Linked DNA regions of Homo sapiens: region 1 is linked to region 2. Evidence: fine-mapped expression QTL. A gene starts in region 2. The other region holds a variant in brackets. All regions are shown on one strand. Distances are from middle to middle.

Region 1 (2,900 bases), 57 kb before region 2:
ATTTCTGTGACATAGCACTCCTCCAGGGCTCCTGAGGGGCTGTGCACCTTGGCATCGATCGCCCCCTTGGCCCCGTTCAGGCTGACTGCAAAAGAGGCTGGCTGGTTGACCTTTAGCCCTGACTCCTGGAAGCACAGCAGACATGGTTAGATGGGGGTGCTTGAGCCAGGGCAAGGGAGGACGGAAAGGCCCCAGGAGCAAGAGGCCCGCGGGTCGCACTTACCCATCTGGCGTCCAACTTGGTTTAAAGAGGGAGAGCCACTGATTTGCAAGGGGCAGCAAGCCACAGGCGCACATCCCCGCCCCTGCCCCCACACTCTGCCGTCGCACACACCCAGGTGGCAGGAAGGGAGGGCTGCCCCACCCTGTGGGCAGCACCCAGCCTTGGCAGGCTGTCCCTCTTTAAACCGCAGCCCTGGTGCTCAAGGGGCACAGGCTTCTGTTCAAAGCCTTTAGACCTGAGACACGAGAAAAACTCCACGTGGTGGGCAGGATATTTCCTGCCGACCCCAAGCGTGGGCTGCACCCGGCCAGAGCAGAGGCCTGGAACCCAGAGCTGGGCCAGGGGGGTCACTGAACACAGGGCCAAGGCCTGGTCTCTGCGGTGGCTCTGGTCTGTCCGGGCCCAGGAGCCCCAGGTGGGCGGTTTCTCTCGGTGCCTCACCTGAAGGCTAGAAACAGTGAGGCGGCGGGCGTCGCCAGACGGAGAAGCCACAGGCACCACGAAGGGGCTGTCGGGAATGTGTTCCTCGTTGAACTTGACTGAGACTTCGTAGTCACCTGGGCAGGGAAAGAGTGTAAGACCGGCTCATCAGCCTTTGGGCCTCCCACCTCCCACGAACAGCCTGGGTGGCCCTGTGACCTCAAAGTGAAGAGTGAGTGCCAGGCAGGGCTATCTGTGCCAGCCCTGGGTCCAATACCCACACTCAGGCCCCACCTCCTCCAACCCCAGCCGGGTTCCCAGTACCTGGCTCCTGGACCACATAAGCCACACCACAGGAGCCGTCCTTGCGGTCCTCAAAAGAGATCTCAGCCTTGCTGGGGCCCTCGACAGCAATGGCCAGGCCTCCAGCACCAGCTTCCCGGGTCCAGATACTGAATTCGGCTGTGGGAGAACAGTTTGTCCTCACTGAAGGCTGCTTCACCAGCCTCGGCCCCCTCCAGGCATAGCCAAGGTAGACATGCCTGCCGGCTCTTTCCTCCACCCCCAACCCCACCCTGGCCAACGCAGGAGAGCGAGCACTCGGGGTGTGAGCAGGCCTACCTGGCACTCCAGCTTCAGCTCTCTCCA[G/A]GCCAGGGCCCCCAGCTCGGACCTTGTGGGCTCCCCCTTCCCCTAGGGGCCCCACGGTGAACTGGAAGGGGCTCCCAGGCACGTGCTGGCCCTTGTACTTCACGCTGACTGTGTGTGTGCCCATCTCAGCGGGAACAAAGCGGATGCAGTAGGTGTGGTTCTCCCCTTCCACGATCTCGGCCTCATGGGTCTTGCCCGATGGGCTGGTCACCTGGGCTGTCATATCCTGGATGCTAATTTCTGCAGGGTGGGGATGGGCTAGTGAGCAGCAGCCCTGGGCTCCACCCCTCCTCTTGGGGCTGCTTGAGCCCCAGGACCCCTCCCCAGGCTTCCCACAGCCCCTACCAGGGATTTTCAGGCTGAGGTCACAATGACTACCAACGTTGGCCACTGAAGGAGCCCGACGCCTGCGGGTGATGCTCTCTTTCACCCGGCCCTCGCCTGTCACCTTCACAGAGAAGGGGCTGCCTGCAGGAAGAAAGCACGGCCCACGCCCCTCCAGTCACATACTGCCTGTGGGCCCTGGTGTAGTGAGGGGGGCTGCCGAGGCACTGCTGCACTCACCAGGCACGTGCTGGTCGGCAAACTTGATGTTGATGATGTAGTTGCCTGGCTCTGTGGGGCAGTAGGTGACCCTGCACGTCCCGTCCTCCAGGTCCTCTGTGTTGATGTCCACCTTGCTGGGGCCCTCAATGGACAGGCTGAGCCCACCATAGCCTAGGGGATGGATACCCCTGAGCCTCGGTGCTATGCACAGTGCTCCCGCCCCAGCTGGTGGGCAGCCACTGCCTACCTGCATCGCGGGTATCAATGATAAACTCTGCAGGCTCAAAGGTGTGGCCTTCGTGAAGGCCCTGACCAGAGACCCGAACACGACTGGCATCCCCAATTTCCGACTGGCTGATCACCACCGGGATGGGGCTGCTGGCCACGTGCTGGCCATTTTTCTTCACATGCACCAGGTGCTCCCCCGTCTCCTTGGGCACGAATGAAATCCCTGGACACAGGGCATGGCTGTCAGTCAGGGAGGGCATGGCTCCCCACAGGCTGCCTCCTTTCTGAACCCCCTGGACCCTTCAGCCGCTTACCCACGTGGCCATTACGCAGCCGCTTCAGCAAACAGGGCTCCTCCCGGCCCGAGGGCGGGACCACAGTGGCCGTCAGCAGGCTGAGATCCGTCTCTGAGATGTTGATGGGGATGTCGGCAGCAGAGCCGACCTTTAGGTGGGACATACGCATGGAGTCGTCACCTGGTGGGGACAGGCCAGCCATCAGTGTGCGTCCAGCCATGGGAGACCATGCCCACCCTGCCACCCGTTTCTGTCACTGCTCCCAGTGCCACCCACCTGTGACCCGAGCAGTGAAGGGGCTGCCTGGGACGTGCTGTTCATTGTACTTGACTAGAATGCTGTAGTCCCCCGGCAGCACAGGCAGGTAGGACACGCTGCATGTCCCATCCTGGTTGTCAGTGCAGCTGATTTCTGCTTTGGACGGGCCCTCAATGGCCAGAGACAGGCCCCCTGGAGAGAGCCGTGGGTGAGCATGGGAACTATGCTGGGGACACTCCAGTTGGCCTGCACTGAGGAGCTCCGATGGCCAGGGCAGCAGG
Region 2 (2,900 bases):
CTCCTGAGTAGTTGGGGCTACAGGCGTGAGCCACCGCGCCCGGCCCCCCCCCTTTTTTTTTTTTTTTTTTTTGATAGTCTCATTCTGTTGCTCAGGCTGGAGGGCAGTAATGTGATCTCAGCTCACTGCAACCTCCACCTTCCAGGCTCAAGTGATGCTCTCACCTCAGCCTTCCGAGTAGATGGGACTACAGGTGCATGCTGCCACACCAAGCTAATTTTTTTTTTCTTTTTTTGAGATGGAGTCTCACTCTGTCTCCCAGGCTGGAGTGCAGTGGCTTGATCTCAGTTCACTGCAACCTCCGTCTCCCAGGCTCAAGAGATTATCCTGCCTCAGCCTCCCAAGTAGCTAGGATTACAGGCACGTGCCACCACACCCGGCTAATTTTTGTACTTTTAGTAGAGACAGGGTTTCACCATGTTGGCCAGGCTGGTCTCAAACTCCTGACCTCAAGTAATCCTCCCACCTCAGCCTCCCAAAGTGCTGGAATTACAGGTGTGAGCCACCGCGCCCGGCTACCAAGCTAATTTTTAAAATTTGTTTGGAGAGATGGGGTTTCACCATGTTGTTCCAAGACCCCAGTGCTTTTCGCCTCCATTAGCAACTACAGGAACATCTTCGTTCATCTCTGTCTCCCCACTTGTGAGATGTTCTCTTTAAGATAAACTCCCGGCAGTGAAGGGTGTGTGCATTTTAAAAGGTCTCAGATATGGCCAAATCATCCCCATTGCAACCTGTGATGGGGACTCTTTCCCATGCCCCTGCCACCACTGGGGAGCCCTTCTTGTTCATCTCACCAGCTGGAGCCCCCCTCTCTCAGTTTATCTTTGTCTCACACTCACCTGACCTTGCAGGGCTCGGCTCCTTGCTCCACGCCCTGTCCATGTGGCTTTTGCATCCTGAGGCATGAGTTCCTCTGCTCTGTCTGCCTGCTTTTCTCTATCAACCTGTCACCTTCCCTTCGGGCTCACTTCCTACCTCTCTGAGGCTCTGTCCGTCTCTGTCTCACTTTCCCTCTCGTCTCTGGTTTCCCTTCTCTGTCTCTCTGTTGCGGTGTCTCTCTCCTGGCTGGGTTTGATGTCTGTTTCTCCCTGACCACCTGCTCTGTCACTCATGCTAGTTTGGGTTCCCTACCCTGGTGCCTATTCTGGGATATACATGGGTATGTGGGCAGCCCTGGGCTGGCACATGCAGCCTTGGAGGCTCTGGCGTCAGGGACCCCCATGAGGGCTACCAGTAAGAACCAGAGAGAGCGACGGTTCCTGGCTTCAGCCCCAAACCCTGGCTGTCAATATCAGCCTTGGTGGGAGCCCTAGGCTTCCCTCTCCCTCTCAAACCCTCCCCAGGCAGAAGGCAACTTCCTCCCTTCTTCCGTCTCCCCAGGGGGCTCCCATACCTGCTCAGACCAGCTTGTCACCAAGTCTGCCTCATCCTTAAGTGGATCGCGATACCCCAGAAGAGCAGCTCCTGCCTGAATAGGGCTAGGAGGGGAAAAAAAAGAGGAAGAGGCTGTGTTCCTGAGCCACCCGGCCAGGAAGGGCCTGGCTGGGCCGGACGCCCCACCCTTGCCAACAGGCAGGCCCGCCCCGTCTCCGCCTCGCCGCCAACAAGGAGGACCAGCACCAGGCCTGGGAACTGCTGACCTGCCCGCCCACCTTCCCACCCAGACCCCGCCTTCCCGGGCCAGCGGGACATGACAGACCTGTGAGTCACTCAAGCCTGGGGCAAGGAGGGGCTGGTGCCTGAGTGAGACCCCGAGCTTCGCTCGCCAGGCCCGTCGCTCAGCTCCCGGTCTGGGTCCCCAGTCAGCAGTTGCTGGGGAAGGCGCAGGAGCTGGAAGTCATGCCTGATGCCACGAGACCGGGCACCCCAAGGGCGTGAGTCTTCTGTCCCTGTTGTTGGGTTCTGAGTCCCAGTGTGGCTGCACACTTCTGAGTTAGGGGTGTTTGATGCAAGCGCTCTGGAGACCCAAAGAGAGGGACAGTCCACACATGATCTGGCCACAGTCGTGAAGTCAAGGGAGGACTGAGGATCTGCCCCAGAGAGGAGGAGACCCAGGGAGCTGGCAGTCCAACGTCCTGGGGGTCCTGCAGTAATGCTGTTGGGACAAATGAGGTGCTCGGACAGGGTCTGTGAGCAGGAGGTGGGGCTGAATCCACTCAGCTTCTCATGGGATGGCTGTAGCTAATGGATTCGACGTGGTAATAGAAGGCTGGACAAATTTTAAAAAATCAATAAATTATGGGCTGGGCGTGGTGGCTCATGCCTGTAATCCCAGCACTTTGGGAGGCTGAGGCGGGTGGATACGAGGTCAGGCGTTCAAGACCAGCCTGGCCAACATAATGAAACCCGTTTCTACTAAAAATACAAAAAATTAGCCCGGCGTGGTGGTGGGCGCCTGTAATCCCAGCTACTCAGGAGGCTGAGGCAGGAGAATTGCTTGAGCCTGGAAGGCGGAGCTTGCAGTGAGCCGAGATCACACCACTGCACTCGCACTCCAGCCCGGGCGACAGTGCGAGACTCCATCTCAAAAAAAAAAATCAATAAATTATGGTTTAAAAATAAAAAACAGGCCAGGTAGGATGACTCACACTTTGGGAGGAGAGGCAGACAGATCACCTGAGGCCGGGAGTTCGAGACCAGCTTGACCAACATGAAGAAACCCAGCCTCTACTAAAAATACAAAAATTAGCCAGGTGTGGTGGCTTGCGCCTGTAATCCCAGCTACTCAGGAGGCTGAGACAGAAGAATCGCTTGAACCTGGGAGGCAGAGGTTGCAATGAGCTGAGATCTCGTCACTGCACTCCAGCCTGGGCAACAGAGCAAGACTCTGTCTCAAAAATAAAAATAAATAAAAATAAAAATAAAAAACTGCCGGGTGCGGTGGCCCATGCCTGTAA

Alleles and levels. Alleles are on the strand shown, and positions count from the first base shown. SD is a standard deviation of normalised expression in the study named.
As copies of G replace A in region 1, the expression in skeletal muscle of the gene that starts at base 1,539 in region 2 goes up (moderate effect, 0.67 SD a copy in GTEx).

Evidence for each region. PIP is the estimated chance that this variant, and not a neighbour inherited with it, causes the effect.
Region 1: its variant is the best candidate, but not a certain one, in a credible set for the expression of DNASE1L1 in skeletal muscle (GTEx, PIP 0.80).

Annotation. Positions count from the first base shown.
Region 1 is chrX:154,350,917-154,353,816 of GRCh38, forward strand. FLNA (filamin A) reads right to left here. Exons shown (of 48, transcript NM_001110556.2): 36 at 2,638-2,811; 37 at 2,380-2,541; 38 at 2,085-2,288; 39 at 1,856-2,008; 40 at 1,637-1,759; 41 at 1,265-1,531; 42 at 968-1,105; 43 at 665-780; 44 at 1-125. Among named protein-coding and RNA genes, the nearest start is that of FLNA, 22 kb to the right of the region's middle. The variant G/A (reference allele first, on the strand shown) is at 1,292.
Region 2 is chrX:154,407,716-154,410,615 of GRCh38, forward strand. It overlaps DNASE1L1 (deoxyribonuclease 1 like 1), which reads right to left and starts at 1,539. Exons shown (of 8, transcript NM_001303620.2): 1 at 1,397-1,539.